Homo sapiens: one gene and its partner. The protein of the gene in region 1 purifies or fractionates together with the protein of each later gene. This does not show direct contact. Each region holds a gene or a part of one and is shown on either strand. Other genes may lie near its edges.

Region 1 (7,272 bases):
GGACGGCTTAAATAAATTATGGTGTATTTACATAACGGAAGACTATGCAGCTAAAAAAAAAAATGAGGAAACAACATATAATAGGTTAAAAAATGCCAAGATATACTAGTAGAAAAAACAAGGCACAGAACATTGCCTTTAATTTACTATTTATGTTTTTAAAATAAGGGAAAGAATATATTCACATACATATATTTATTATGGAGGCATAAAATAGATGGCTGGAAGACATTTTACATTAGTTGTATATGGGGAAGAAACTGATTGCAAGAAACAAAATAAAAAAGAGGCTTTTCATTATTTTTCTTTCTTTGAATTTCAAACCATATGAATGTACTGCCCACACAGAAATATTAAAAGAACTCTGCTTTCTTTTCTATCAAGCCAGATCACCAGAGATCATTCTTAGCATTATTTTAGCCCCTTACAAGATTGCTTTTGGCCTCTACTGTATATATTATATACAAACGATAGTGATTGCATCAGATGATAATTCCTCATCAGAATTCAAGGGAAAAATTATTCTTAGGACCTTTGAGCTTGCTTTTTTTTTTTTTTTTTTTGAGATGGAGTCTCGCTCTGTCACCCAGGCTGGACTGCGGTGGCCGTGATCTCGCTCACTGCAACCTCTGCCTCCCAGGTTCAGGCAATTCTCCTGTCTCAGCCTCCCTAGTAGCTGGGACTACAGGCATGCACCACCACACCTGGCTAATTGTATTTTTGGTAGAGACAGGATTTCGCCATGTTGGCCATGCTGGTCTGAGCTTTCATTTTTAAAACACTTATCTCTGACCCATCTTATTTCCCTTACTTTATTTTTATGTCAACTTCTTCAGGGATTAATTAGTATTATTTTATACTATTTTTTTTCAGACATGGTCTCGCTCTGTCACTCAGGCTAGGGTGCGGTGGCACCATCATGGCTCACTGCAGCCTTCAACTCCTGGCCTCAAGCAATCCTCCTTCCTCGGCCTCCCAAAGTGCTGGGATTATAAGCATGAGCCACCATACCCGGCCTGAATTTCAATAAGCATCATTAATCCATTCTACAATCCATCAGGTAACCAATTATATTTAATAATAATTCTGCCCAGGCGTGGTGGCTCATGCCTGTAATTCCAGCACTTTGGGAGGCAGAGGTGGAGGCGGATTGATTGCTTGAAGTTTAGACCAGCCTGGGCAACATGGCGAAACCCTGTCTGTACAAAAATTAGCTGGGCATGGTGGTGCACAACGGTCATCCTACTTATTAGGGAGACTGAGGGGGGAGGATCACTTGAGTCCAGGAGGTCAAGGCTGCAGTGAACCATGAGCATGCCACTGCACTCCAGCCTGGGTGACACAGCAAGACCCTGTCTCAAATAATGATAAAATAATAATAATTAATTCTGTCACAGCTACCATAAATGCTTTCAAATGGGTTTGCTATAAGACTTCCAGCAACAGTAATATTTGTTCCAGTTCATTCATGTGCACCTAAATGGCCAAAAGACACATTTTTAACACCAAGATAATTGAACTTATGGTTGTTGGCATCATTAGCCTCAACCATGTTCTACCCAGCTGCAAAATAAAACAACAGTGTGTTTAAACCAGATTCTTGAAATGACATGATTGTGCTTGTGCTGTCTAAATGAGAAGTCATTTTAATTCCAAAGGTACACAGGTCTTTTTTTTTTTTTGAGACAGGGTCTTGCTCTGTCACCCAGGCTAGAGTGCAGTGGTGTGATCATGGCTCACTGTGGTCTCAAACTCCTGGGCTCAAGTGACTCTCCTGCCTCAGCCTCCCAAGTAGCTGGGACTATAAGCGCATACCACCACGCCCAGCTAATTTAGTTTTTGTAGAGATGAGGTCTTGCTATGTTTCCCAGGCCGGTCTCAAACTCCTGAACTCAAGCAATCCTCCCACCTTGGCCTCCCAAAGTGCTGAGATTATAAGCCTGAGCCAATGCACCTGGCCTATCCTCCTTTTTCTACATCTATCAAATATCTATGAAACAGGTAAACAAACAAAACAGACAAAAATAAACAACATTTACCAGTAGCATAGATGGCTTTGTAAAGCAAATAAATACTCATTAAAACTTTCAATAGGCTTCTCCTGTAGCACATAGTCAATGCGTTGGCCTCCATTCAGCATCCCCACATTGATAGGCAGGACTTCTTCTTTAACTGCCACAGAGGTCTCTTCTGTGTTAACATCTGGATATGGAAGAACCATAATAAGAATCTAAAACCTTTTGGCCTTCAGGGTTATCCTGTTAACTTCTCCTCACACTCCAAGTTTACCAGAGAATGAGCTACTCTCTGTTCAGAGAGCTCTCTCCCATCTTCCTCCTCTCAATCTCCTTCAAGCTCCTTCTCAGGTCACAGTAATTTTGTCCAATCCCCTTTTTTGCTTTTGCGCAACACATCTCATTACCTATACCATTGATAGCTAGGTCATTTGCCTTGGGTTTATACTAAATGCAAGCAGGAATAGAGCTCTTTAGAAGTTGAAAACTAAAGCAAAAGAATGCAATATTAACTATGAAATTAAATGTGAAATTAAATTAAATTAACTATGAAAAACGCCACACCATGGCATCCCTCTTATCTGGCAGCTGGTCAATGTGTACAGTGTCACTGACCACTAGGCTTCTCTGAAGTTGATTCAGGTTCTGCTTCAGTTTCTTCTGGTGTTTCTGAAGCTTGTAAGGCAGGGTATGGAGCTCTGGTAAAAGACTTCCAGGCCATCCGCAGCGAACCTAGCAAGTTGTTCTTAAGGTCCATACTCATCCTGGTCAAGCCCTCTCTCAGTTCTGAAACATATAAATAAAGAACATTAAATGATTTACAAAGAGCTTAGGGTCCAACATAGCTGAACAGAGTGAATGATGCCCTTTGCACTGGCCAAAAGGTCTAGAATTATCAAGTTCTATGCTCGGACTTACCTAAGTGCATCCGCTTCCTGCCTTTATGATGTGGGATCAGCATTGGCTCAAATTCCACTCCTGGGACCACCATTGGTTCAATCCTATAGGCCACAGGATCAAACTACATAGGAAAAACAAGAGCTACATTTACCTCTGCTAAGCACAGTCTGGAAACTATATAACTTTTTTTTTTTTTTTTTTGAGATGAGGTCTCGCTCTGTCACCCAGGCTGGAGTGCAGTGGTGCAATCATGGCTCACTGTAGCCTTCAACTCCTAGGCTCAAGCAATCCTCCTGCCTTGACCTCCCAAAGTGCTGGGATGACAGGCATTAGTCACCATGTACAACCAGAACTATGTATCTTAAACAATAATCATAAGTTCATTTAAAAAAATGTACAGTTCTGCTCCATCACTTCCAAATCAATACTATTATAAGTTGTCTCATTGCTAGACAATGGAATAGGAAAAAAAAATCAACACAACAGAAAATCCTATGTTCTTTAACAATAAGCCCTGATATTTAGGTAAAACCACAATAGCTGTACAATGCTTACAGGGTGATAAATATTGAAGAAACCTTTGCACGTTGGAAATCTGTAGTTGGGATCAATTCTTTTTAGTCCTCGGACAGTAAGGAACATTCCAATGGGAGATCCAAAGGCAAAGAATATCTCTGGTTTATAGATGAGCCGGGGGTATTTCACAGACACCTCAAAGGAGGAAAATAAAAGCATCTCTCATTAATAACAAAAGTTACATCTGTTTCTACCATACAAATAGCAGGCTGTAAAATGATCAAAGAGAATTAGTTACCTGCCCAATGCCAACATCCAGATAGTCACCATTTCTAGTATTACTGCTACTGCAGAACTCAGATTCTTTGGGGATGTTTGCCCCTGAAGCAGGCTGCGGGGCTGGTCTCTTAATACCCTAAAGAATAAAAAATAGTTATGTGGAGAAGCTGGGCATGACGGCATGCACCTGTAGTCCCAGCTACTCAGGACCCTGAGGTAGGTAGGTAGGTAGGATTGTTTAAGCCCAAGAGTTCAAGTCCAACGTGGGCAACATAGTCTCTATTTAAAAAAAAAGTATGGGGAGCTACTATATAGTAAAAGTATAGCCAAAGGATTATATAGTTTTCTACTGGTTTGAAAGGACCCTTGGGAAAGTTCTGAAATGGCAGCCAAAAATTCTAGGAAGATTTCCTCAGAAAACAAGATTAAATTATTGCCTTAAATTGTTAATTGACATTCTTAGATGCTCTAAAATGATGAAAGTTGTACATAGCCATTTCAGTAGCGTTGAAACTTTAGGCAACAATCATAAGAGAAAACAATAGCAGGGCACTGTGGGAAGATAATGCTGAGGATTGCTAGAGTTCTATGAAGTGCTGTGCCTCTGTAATCAAGGGAAGTAGGATGTCGATGGGCTGGGCCAAGAACTGAGTCTTTAAAAAGAAATGAGCCACCTGCTAAAAAGTTGGAAAAGAACTAACTACTGGCCAGGCATGGTGGCTCACGCCTGTAATCCCAGCACTTTGGGAGGCTGAGGTGGGCGGATCACTTGAGGTCAGGAGCTCAAGACCAGCCTGGCCAACATGGTGAAACCCCATACTAAAAATACAAAAATTAGCTGGGTGTGGTGTCGCGTGTCTGTAATCCCAGCTACTCAGGAAGCTGAAGCAGGAGAATCACTTGAATCCAGGAGGCGGAGGTTGCAATTGAGCCAAGATCGTGCAACTGCACTCCATCCTGGGCGACAGAGCAACACTCCGACTCAAAAAGAAAAAAACTAACTAATAAGATATGGAGTTAGAAATTCAGTGACCAGAAAAACTGAATGTGGAAGTACTGTTAACACAGGTAAACCTTCAGAATATTATGCTAAGTGAAAGAAGTCAGACACATGGCTCAAAAGGACATTCCATTTATATGGAATGTCCAAAATAAGCAAATCTGTAGAAACAGAAAGTAGATTAGTGGTTGACAGAGGCTGGGGGCAGGGAGCAATGGGGAGTGACAGCAAATGGGTATGGGGTTTCCCTAAGGGACAATGGAAATGTGCTGAAATTGGATAGTGGTAATGGTTACATAACTCTATGAATATACTAAAAACCATTAAATTGTAAACTTTAAAAGGGTGAATTTTATGGTATGTGATGTGAAGTAGATATTGGTAAAACTCTCATGAAAAGAAAAAAGCAAAAAATAAATAAATAAATAAATGGTAGGAGAATTCCAGAGGAGAGAAGACTTCTGAAGCTAATAATACTTTTAAGGATGTAAAAAAAGAAGGGCCAGGAGCGGTGCAGCACTTTGGGAGGCTGAGGCACATGGGTCATCTGAGGTCAGGAGTTCAAGACCAGCCTGGCCAACATAGTGAAACCCCGTCTCTACTAAAAATACAAAAAGTTAGCTGGGCATGGTGGTGCACACCTGGAATCCCAGCTACTCAAGAGGATGAAGCAGGAGAATTGCTTGAACCTGGAAGGTGGAGGTTGCAGTGAGCCGAGACCACCCACTATACTCCACCCCGGGCAACACAGCGAGATTTCATTTCCAGGAAAAGAAAAAAAAAAGAATGTAAAAAAGAAAATGTGTTTAATTTCTAGAAAGAGAGCCAAAGATCGGCCAGGCGGGTGGCTCACACCTGTAATCCCAGCACTTTGGGAGGCCAAGGCGGGCAGATCACAAGGTCAGGAGTTTGAGACCAGCCTGGCCAATATGGTGAAACACCGTCTCTATTAAAAATACAAAAATTAGCCAGGCATGGTGGTGGGCGCCTGTAGTCCCAGCTACTCGAGAGGCTGAGGCAGGAGAATCGCTTGAACCCGGGAGGCAGAGGTTGCAATGAGCTGGGATCACACCACTGCACTCCAGCCTGAGTGACAGAGCGAGACCCTGTCTCAAAAAAAAAGAGCCAAAGATCAATTACCAAAAAACTGCTTGGCTCCCCAGAGTAAACATCCCACAAAGCACAAGGACACACTATGGACATCAAAGAATTGTTTAGTCCAACAAGCTGTATTAGGCACATACCATTGAGTTTTTTCTGGTGCTGAAATAGTTTAATATCTTCTTTCTTGGTCCTAAAGGAATTCCTATTTCCTGAAGATCTCGGTCTGTACATAAAGCCTAGGCATAGAAAATCAAGTCTTTCTTATTTCTAGACAAAATAAAATCAATCCTGTCCCCTAAGAGGAACAAGGCCTAGGCACTCTGTTGCTGCCTGTCTCTCTAGTAGTAAAACATCATAGAATAACTTCCAGAAAAAAGGACCTGTTTTATTCATGAAACAGCCTAAAAAAGAATAGAAAATATCAATACTTATAATATCAATGTTACAATAATATAGACATTGTTATTGTTAAAAAAAAAAAAAAAAAACAGAGAAGTTGGGTATCTAAGGACTTCAGGACATAAAAATCTTCCTTGATTTCTGGCCAGGCGCGGTGGCTCACGCCTGTAATCCCAGCACTTTGGGAGGCCGAGGCGGGTGGATCATGAGGTCAGGAGATGGAGACCATGGTGAAACCCCGTCTCTACTAAAAATACAAAAAAAATTAGCCAGGCGCAGTGGCAGTCACCTGTATTCCCAGCTACACAGGAGGCTGAGGCAGGAGAATGGCGTGAACCCGGAAGGCAGAGCTTGCAGTGAGCCGAGATCGCGCCACTGCACTCCAGCCTGGGCAACAGAGCAAGACTCCGTCTCAAAAAAACAAAACAAAACAAAAAAACTTCCTTGATTTCTATACTGACTTAGATGTCACATGCCTGAGAAGGATTATACTCCTGCTGATGAACGCAAGCACTGAGAACATACAGCAAACACACAAGTATGGAACAGACTAACAATCAAGATCTCAAGTGTCACTCATCGTTTTTTTTTTTTTTTTTTGAGATGGAGTCTTGCTCTGTCGCCCAGGCTGGAGTGCAGTGGTGTGATCTCAGCTCACTGCAACCTCCACCTCCTGGGTTCAAGCGATTCTCCTGCCTCAGCCTCCCAAGTAGCTGGGACTACATGTGTGTGCCACCACACCCAGCTAATTTTTGTATTTTTAGTACAGACAGGGTTTCACCATGTTGACTAGATTGGTCTCGAACTCCTGACCTCGTGATCTGCCCACCTCGGCCTCCCAAAGTGCTGGGATTACAGGCATGAGCCACCACACCCAGCCAGCTATCACTCATTTGATTAGGGAAGCCTTCCTGCACCTTATGAGACCAGGTTAATTCTTACAACACGGTGTACTTTTCCTACTTACTTATTGTAATTGCCATGATGTGTGTGATTATTTAACATGTGTCTTCCCCAGTAAACTATAAACACTATGAGGTCAGGGATCATATGTCTTAT
Region 2 (7,611 bases), on another chromosome or scaffold:
CAAGAAGCCTTCCTTGCTATGTGAGATCTTCAGGGCACAGGGTCCCAGGACACTGCCCTGAGGCTGAAGTCCCTCTTTACCTGTCCTCAGGAGGACAGCAGCTGACGCCGGCTTCTAGCCCACCCCATTCCCTCATGCCTGCCCACCTCCCTCCCTGTCCCTGACCTGACCAGCACCTTGATTAGGGTGGTAAAATGCTGTTTGTCTCTCCGTCCAGGGTAGAGCCAGGCAAGGTCCAGCCCATCAAAGCCATGGGTGCGCAGAAATGGCGGTACTGACTTGATGAAAGTCCGGCGACTCTGGGTGTTGGAGGCTATCTTGGAAAATCTAGGACCAAAATCAGCCCTGTAGCATGCTCAGCACTGATATGCTAGGTGCCTTGGGCCTCTGGTGGGGTTTCCAGGACCTGCAGAGCTGGGATCCTGAGGCCACACAGCTCTGGGAGGGCATGATTGGGACAGGGGTCGCCTCCAGGCATGCATGTGCCTTAGAGCCAGGCATTCCAGGTTTCCAAGTCTGGCTCTATCACTTACTAGCCAGCCACTGTGAAAGGTTATAACCTGAGTCTCAGTTTCATCATCTGTAAAATGGGGACAAATATAACAGCTCACCTTGCTGTTGTGAGGACAACATGGGATCATGGGGAGACAGGGTGCTGGACACAGAAAGAGTACCCAGCACATGGGTGCCAACGATGGCCATAACCACCCCCATTTCAAGCCCTGCTCCAACCCCACCTAATCCAAAGACTCCTCCCAGGGTCTCCCCACTTCTCAATGTCCCCATTGGTTTCCATCTCTCTCTTTCCAGCCCTAATGGTGGTAGCCCCAGAAGTCCCATATTTTCGGGCCTGTGAGGTAGTAAATAGAGCATTGGCAGGGAATTGGGAGATCCACTGTTAACTTGCTGTGTGACTCTTGGCAAGTCCTGCTCTCTCTCTGGGCTCTGCTTTCTTTGCTACACATCAGGCAGGCCCTTGACAAACAGGTAGGCCTTGTACCTATCTAGTCTGGAGCCCCTGGAACATCCATACAGTGGATGCGGGAGACCCAAGCTCCTCACTCCTATGCCATCATCCTCTGCCGTCCTGCCCCTGGGGAGAGGCTCCTACCTTTGAGACCCAAAGTTCCATCCTCCGACAGACAAGAGAGTCTTCAGGTTGGGGTTCCTGTGGAGCACAGGGAGGTGGGGAGGGCAGGAGTGGAATGACATTGTCATGACACTGGGTGGCCCCATGTCTGAGAGGCCATAGAAGGTTTCCTGCTTTGGGTGAGAGGCTGGGTTAGGCCGCTGATGTCCTCCCATAGGACATCATGGGAATCCCATAGAGATTCATAGTGGTGGATCTCTGAGGGGTCACAGGCTTCATGGGAGTTACTCTGAGGTCTGCTGCCCATTTTTGTTTTCCCCAGTGGAGAAGACAGAGTATGGCAAAGTAGAGTCTTGCTCATTTTCCATGCTCCCTGGAGAGCACGTTAGGGGCAGGAGAGGGTTCCCCTCTCCCAGAGGGGCTCAGCTGCGCTTCCGTCTACAGTCTCTCATCACCCCAAATATTGCCCAGCACCTACAGTCATCCCCTCCACCCATTTAAGCCAAGCCCCTCTAACTCTCCAAACATAGGTGAGCAGGGTGGGGCCTCGCCCTTCCTCCTGGGTGGGGTTGCCCTGCCCTGGGACCAGCCCAGCTGGTCCCTCCTCTCCTGGCCAGCCCTGGCCCAACCTGTTCTTGAGTGTGTTGAGCATGCCGTAGAGCGTCACATCATTCCACTCCCAGGTGTCGATGTGATCGTTGCTTATATTGGCAAAGCTGTAGATGATGTGGGTACAGAGGAAGCGGTCAAGGGCATCTGGGAAGCAGCTCCCATCGCCTTCCCGGTACTGGGACCAGCTGGTGTAGTAGCAGACCAGTTTGTATGCAGAGCCTGAAGGAGAAGTCTGGGATGGGGCCCGGGCCAGGATTCGGCAAGAGACCTCAGGCTGAGCCCAGAGCTGAGCACCAATGGGGTGTGGGGTTGGGTAGGGAGGAGTGGGGTGCAGATTGTGAGCAAAGTCAGAATTCTTAAATGAAAGGAGCTGGTTCAGGTCCCCCTGCCTCTGGGGAGTTCCCTGACTGGTGAAAATAAGGCCTATTCTGAAAATGCTTAGAAAAGATCCAATGCAGGGGATGAATACGCTACAGGCACTGTGTGGGGGAAGGGTAGGAGCTGGGGAATAAGGATGAAATGGGACTTGGTGCCAGCACAGCAGGCTTCCTGGAAGCAGTGGCTTTGTGGGAGGGGAAGGCCCAAGATAGCCTGTGTCACAGATGGCCCTGGCTTTCAGGCTGGCACCTTTAGTGACCTGCAGTGAGGTCCTTCATCCATGAGGGACTCTGGCCCACCTTTCTCTGCCTCCTGGTGAGAGTGCCTCTAACTTGTAACCCACCCGGAATGGCAGTCCTGTGCTCCCTCGGCATGTCCCCCAGGCTGGGGCACAATATCACAATGGACCAGGAAATCCTTCCTCGCCTCTAATTCTGTTTCTCCTGCTGCAAACAATGTGGGCATCACTCATCCAAGCAGCTACTGGGCAACTGTACTAGCGGCTCCCAGGGGCTGTTAGTCAAAGCCTTCACTGAACCAGGACCTTTTAAAGTTTCTTATTTTGAGAATTTTCACATATACCAAAGAGTATAGCAAAATAAACATCCATATACTCCTCACTCCAGTTTAGCAAACGTGACTATTTCGAAGTCATTGGAAGCACAGAAGAACCTGGCAAAGTGTTCCCTTGGAGCTAAGACCTCCTCCACACCTGCCCTGTGCCCTCGCCACGCCTCTGGACTTAAAAGTGGAGGTGGAGGGATTACTCACAGCACTGGAGCAGCACCAGGACCACAAAGCCTGAAGAGAAATCCAGGATGAGACCCCTGCAAGTGCATCCTGCCCTTCCGCCCTGCTCCCTCCCCCAAGCAACTGAGACCCACCTCCCCCACCCCCACCTCCTGGTTGCAGCCTCAGTCCCTCCCCTGGCTCTGCTTCTCCTCCCCCTCTGCCCACTCCCTTAGTCCCTCACCCAGCAGGCAGATGGCTCTGCGGGCTGTCTGGGCCTGAAAACCCACAACTCTGATGGATTAACCTTGGCTAGCCCAGATACCTGTTTGAGACGCCTTCACACCCATTCTGGCTGCAGCAGAGCAGGGCAGGGTGTGGCCTCTTCCCTTGCCCACGGCTCCTGGTGCCAGCTACCTAGACAGGGCCTCTTCCCCAGGCCCTGTACTTCCTTTATATACCTGTCCCACTCCACTCCCCGACGCGGCAAACCAGCCCTTTTATGGGAACTGAGCTATGTGTCAATGAAGGAATCACGAGGCTGGCAAGTGGAGGCGGGGGAGTACTATGGATTACCAGAGGAGGGTTGAGAAACCGCAGAGTTTTGAAAACTTTGGGTCAGGTCTTCATGAGGCACCTGCCAGCAGAAGAGCCACTAGGGTGATGATGGGGGGCTTCTGGAGATGTGACTCAGCCGCATTTCCCAGCCTTCCTCCCACTCCTGCACCCCACCACTGGCCTTTCTTGCCAGCAATTTCCTGGCTTTTCTGGCAGCCTCTACCTTTGCATCTTCAGCATTCACTCCAGGCCCCTGGCCAGGTGGAAACTGGGCACAATTTAGTTACGTAAGCCACAGTGCCCTAAACAAGGCTGTTGTTTTCTTCCCAGGCTCAGCATTGCCCTGCTTGACCTACCTTCCTACCCTCCCCCTCACACTTTCTGTCTTCAGGCTGGGTAAGGGCCAGAGAGCCTCGGGAGGAAGGAAAGCAAAGAGCCTGAAACTGAGCGCTCCCTTTTGGGCCCGTGTCTTTTTTTTTTTTTTTTTTTTTTTTTTTGCAATTTACATGCTGATTATTTAGAGGGAAAGACAGGGAAATTCCCAAGAATGCTTTAAGCCCCGGTGCTATTTTGCTTCTGTTTTGAAATTCCCATAAAGAGAGAGGATCTTTTGCAAGCTCGGTGCTGCAGTGAGGCACCATGGAGGAAATACAGGCCCTACGGGGCGGCTGCACGAGCATCTGACATCAGTCAGCTCCCCAACTCTCTCAGTGAGGCTTTGGAACCCAAGCCTGATGATACAGCCCCTCTCTAAATCCTTCAGTGATCTCTCATCACTCCTAGGACAAGAACAAAACTTCTTAACGAGGCTCCCTGCCTGATTACGTCCCTGTTTGTGGATACATTTTTTTTTTGGCCAAATATCCAGGACAACTCCATTCTTTGCAGGCTTAACATTAATTAATAGGCAGTGAGTGAAAAGTTCAGAACTCCAAGAGGCAGAATGGGTCCAAGGGCTTCTCAAGAAAGTACCTTTATTTTTCACTAATGTTAGGTAATACTCTAATTTTTCCAGGCTGGTTTTGCAGCTCTCTCGGTGAGGTCTCTCTGCTCTCTCCCTCTTCTCTCCCTCTCTCCCTTTCTCTTCCTTTAAAACTCAGCCAGTGCCTTCCCTTCATTGTAAGAGAGGTGGACAAAAAGTGGCTTGTCCAGAATCACGCTCGGTGAATACTAAAGAGGCATCACTTTTCCTTTTTAAGATGACTGCCTCCTTTTGTACCCAAGATGATTGACAGCAATGACAGTCAATGATAGCTTCTTCTGGTTCATTTGGGGCACTGAGAGGAGGACTTCTAATTTCTAATAGTGATATTATGAAGTGGCATGCAGATGCAAAATTTTTCATCACAGAGCACAGGATGTTAAGAAAACACCTCCTATTTTCACTATCTCCCTTTGTTAAAAATTATTTCATAGGCTTAGATTGGCCCAAGCCTTGTTGTCCTATGCTCCCTCAAGCTCAGTTTATTAATTCCACATGCTCTGCCTGAAGGCAGCTTTGTAACAACAAATGGCCAAGATACCCCCAGGCCTGTGTTAGCAGGATTGGCCAAGGGTCTCATAGGCTCACCACCTCCCAGCCTTATCTCAGGCCATGACCCCCACCCTCCCTATATTCCACTCATGCTTATATGTCTTCTTTTAAATCCTTATATTTGCTCTACTGACTCCCGCCACAGGGCCTTTATATATGACATCCACTTGCCTGTAAATAACGATGAAAGATCTGAGATTTTATGCTACTTGCAAATTAATGACATAACTACAGTTTCGTGGATGTTGGCAGAAGACACGAGACTCCTAGGTCAGAGACAAAGGACTTTATTATCCATGGTACAGCAAGCAGCATGAACTTCATGTTAGGGTCAGTTCCCCTTAGCCCTCAGGTCTCACAAGGGCAGTGTTGGAGGAGCCCAGGTAGATGCCATGAATGCAATGAGTTACATCACAGCAGAGGAATCCCTAGTTTAAGGAACTCAAATCTTTCATGATGAGCAGTAAGCCTTCCTCACCTTGGCCAGCCCAAGATAAGGGAGACATTATCTTTATTACTGGACAGTAAACAAATCTGCCTTTTGGTCTGGAGGGGGGACGCTATTTCTATCTTCCAAGGCTGTTTGCTGTACAAACATCACTAAAAAGATTGCCTAGAACAAAGAAGCCAGTGCCTCTGCACATAAGCTGTGCAGGAAATGCAGGCAACCCATGGAGAATTGCGGTTGGAGAATTGCGGATGGAGAATTGCAGCCTAACACTGCTCTTCTTTGACTGCTTTATTCTTCCTCATCCTTCAGATTGCAGCTCAGGAGTCACCTTGTCTGCAGAAAAGGCAGTCTCCAGGTGACAGAAAACCCGCTATAGGGCTGTCAGAGCACTTTGTACCTCTCTCCTTAACACCTGACTCAGTTATAATTTTATATGTTGTGTGTGGCAGTGGATGTTTTGTTTGCCTCTCTCACTAGACTATAAACTCAGTAAAGGCAACGGCTGGGTCATTTTATCCACCTTTGTATCTATCCCCAGTGCTTGAGACATAGTAGATGCTCAGTAAAGTACTCGTTGAATAAATGAACAAATGATCTCAAAATGGTGCATAACTTCACACTCTTATGAGTTTAAACCCTGATGTTCTCAAAATTTCATCTCATTCAATAGTTTTTGTTACCCTGTGAAGAACTGACTCAGGAGGTGCCATAAAACCACAAAACAAGCTTCCTGACTTAATTTCCCTAATCAAACATTTCTAGGCCCCACAGTACATTGATAGTGTTCAACCAATGTTTATTAAGTAAGTGTACTAGAGTAGTTGCCTTCCACTGAGGTAGACAGTAGAGACAGAAAGGTGAATGGGAACAGAGAGGCAGTCCCTGTCCTCATGAAGCATACAGTCTGGCAAAGAAGATGGACATTAAACAAAGAAAAGCAAGTAATGTATTACGAAGGAAGGGCAGGTGTTAGTCTGCCCCTTGCCCACCGTCCCCTACACACAAAAAAAATTGTGCAAAAACCTGGAGCAGGAAGAGGTTGTTATGTTCAGGAACCAGAAGAATTCAAGAGTGGTTGAGGCATGGAATTAGCAGGAGGGAGCTCGAGGGAGGCACAAGATGAGTCTGGATCAGGAGCCAGAGGGTGGACATTACCACCATTCAGAAAACAAGCTCCTGGGAGCCTGGGCTGGCCCCTTGGGCACAGTGGTTTTGAGGATTCCTTCATTTTGCATGGCGTGTCAGAGCAAACAGAGGTGGTGTTGATGCCCCACCAAATGCTTGAGGAGAATTCTCTCTTTTACAAGTAGTCTCTTCCTCCAGAGGGTGGACTTCTGCCAGGCAGGAATTCAAATCATCTCCAAATCCTCAGCTCGGTGGTGGTGCTGGCGCACAGTAGAAGCTGTCGAAGACTCAGAGGCAGAAACACTTAGAGAAGAAAACAGTTGCTTGTGAAAAGCGGAAGCGAGTCAGATTTCAGAATGGCTGGCTCGTCAAATGCAAAATGCAACAAGTATTTGAAGGGGAAAAAAAAATGACCCAAGGTTATCACGTTTGGTGGAGATCAGCATCATTTTTACAACACATCTTCACTTATCAGCATAGCAAAAATCAGGGATGAAATTGTTTTTTTCGGGGAATTTTTTTTCTTTTTGAGACAGAGTCTCACTCTGTCACCCAGGCTGGAGTGCAGTGGCGTGATCTGGGCTCACTGCAGCTTCGACCTTCTGGGCTCAAGCCATCCTCCTGCCTCAGCCTCCCAAAGTGTTGGGATCAATGGCGTGTGCAACCACACCCAGCTGGGAATCCAAATTTATGGGAAATAGCCAAGGCTTATTATTTTGGTGTCTTAAACCACTCAGGATAACCTATTATTCTTGGCTTATCTCCAGATGCAAATTATTCCCATCCCCACCCCGCAGTGGTACTTGGTCATGAATGAAGCCAGTAGAGTGAAGAGTTGGGCTTTGCGTCTACGGATTTTCCTTCCTTGTGGGCAAGTCCTTGCCATTGAGGCATGGGTTGAACCGTATATGTTGCTTAATAACTTCCTGATGCAGCATCATCAAATTGATATTTTGTTTTATTTGACCAAAATTTATTTCTATTGACATAACAGGAGGTGTTGATGAAATAAATACTTTCTTTTTGTATGGCTAGCGAAACCAGAGCCACATGATAGTGATGCTTTACAGTGAGCTTCTGTCTGGAGGCTTTGTAAAGCCCCTAGGGCTGGGAAGAAATTACTTTTATGTGTGA

What was found.
Region 2: the proteins of DDHD2 (region 1) and CHI3L1 purify together in Homo sapiens (affinity purification with mass spectrometry; 2 studies listed by BioGRID and IntAct, with this or other methods). This does not show direct contact.

Annotation. Positions count from the first base shown.
Region 1 is NC_000008.11:38,248,486-38,255,757, reverse strand, and holds part of DDHD2 (triacylglycerol hydrolase DDHD2), read right to left. Parts: intron 6,051-7,272; coding exon 5,955-6,050; intron 3,847-5,954; coding exon 3,730-3,846; intron 3,627-3,729; coding exon 3,471-3,626; intron 3,037-3,470; coding exon 2,934-3,036; intron 2,802-2,933; coding exon 2,631-2,801; intron 2,203-2,630; coding exon 2,040-2,202; intron 1-2,039. UniProt on the Homo sapiens protein: Diacylglycerol (DAG) and triacylglycerol (TAG) lipase required for proper lipid homeostasis in the central nervous system. It cooperates with PNPLA2/ATGL in neuronal TAG catabolism and hydrolyzes sn-1,3 DAG downstream of PNPLA2/ATGL.
Region 2 is NC_000001.11:203,183,465-203,191,075, forward strand, and holds the start of CHI3L1 (chitinase-3-like protein 1 precursor), read right to left. Parts: upstream 3,241-7,611; 5' UTR 3,160-3,240; coding exon 3,135-3,159; intron 2,882-3,134; coding exon 2,852-2,881; intron 1,922-2,851; coding exon 1,720-1,921; intron 1,169-1,719; coding exon 1,112-1,168; intron 346-1,111; coding exon of another isoform or gene 328-345; coding exon 177-327; intron 1-176. UniProt on the Homo sapiens protein: Carbohydrate-binding lectin with a preference for chitin. Has no chitinase activity. May play a role in tissue remodeling and in the capacity of cells to respond to and cope with changes in their environment.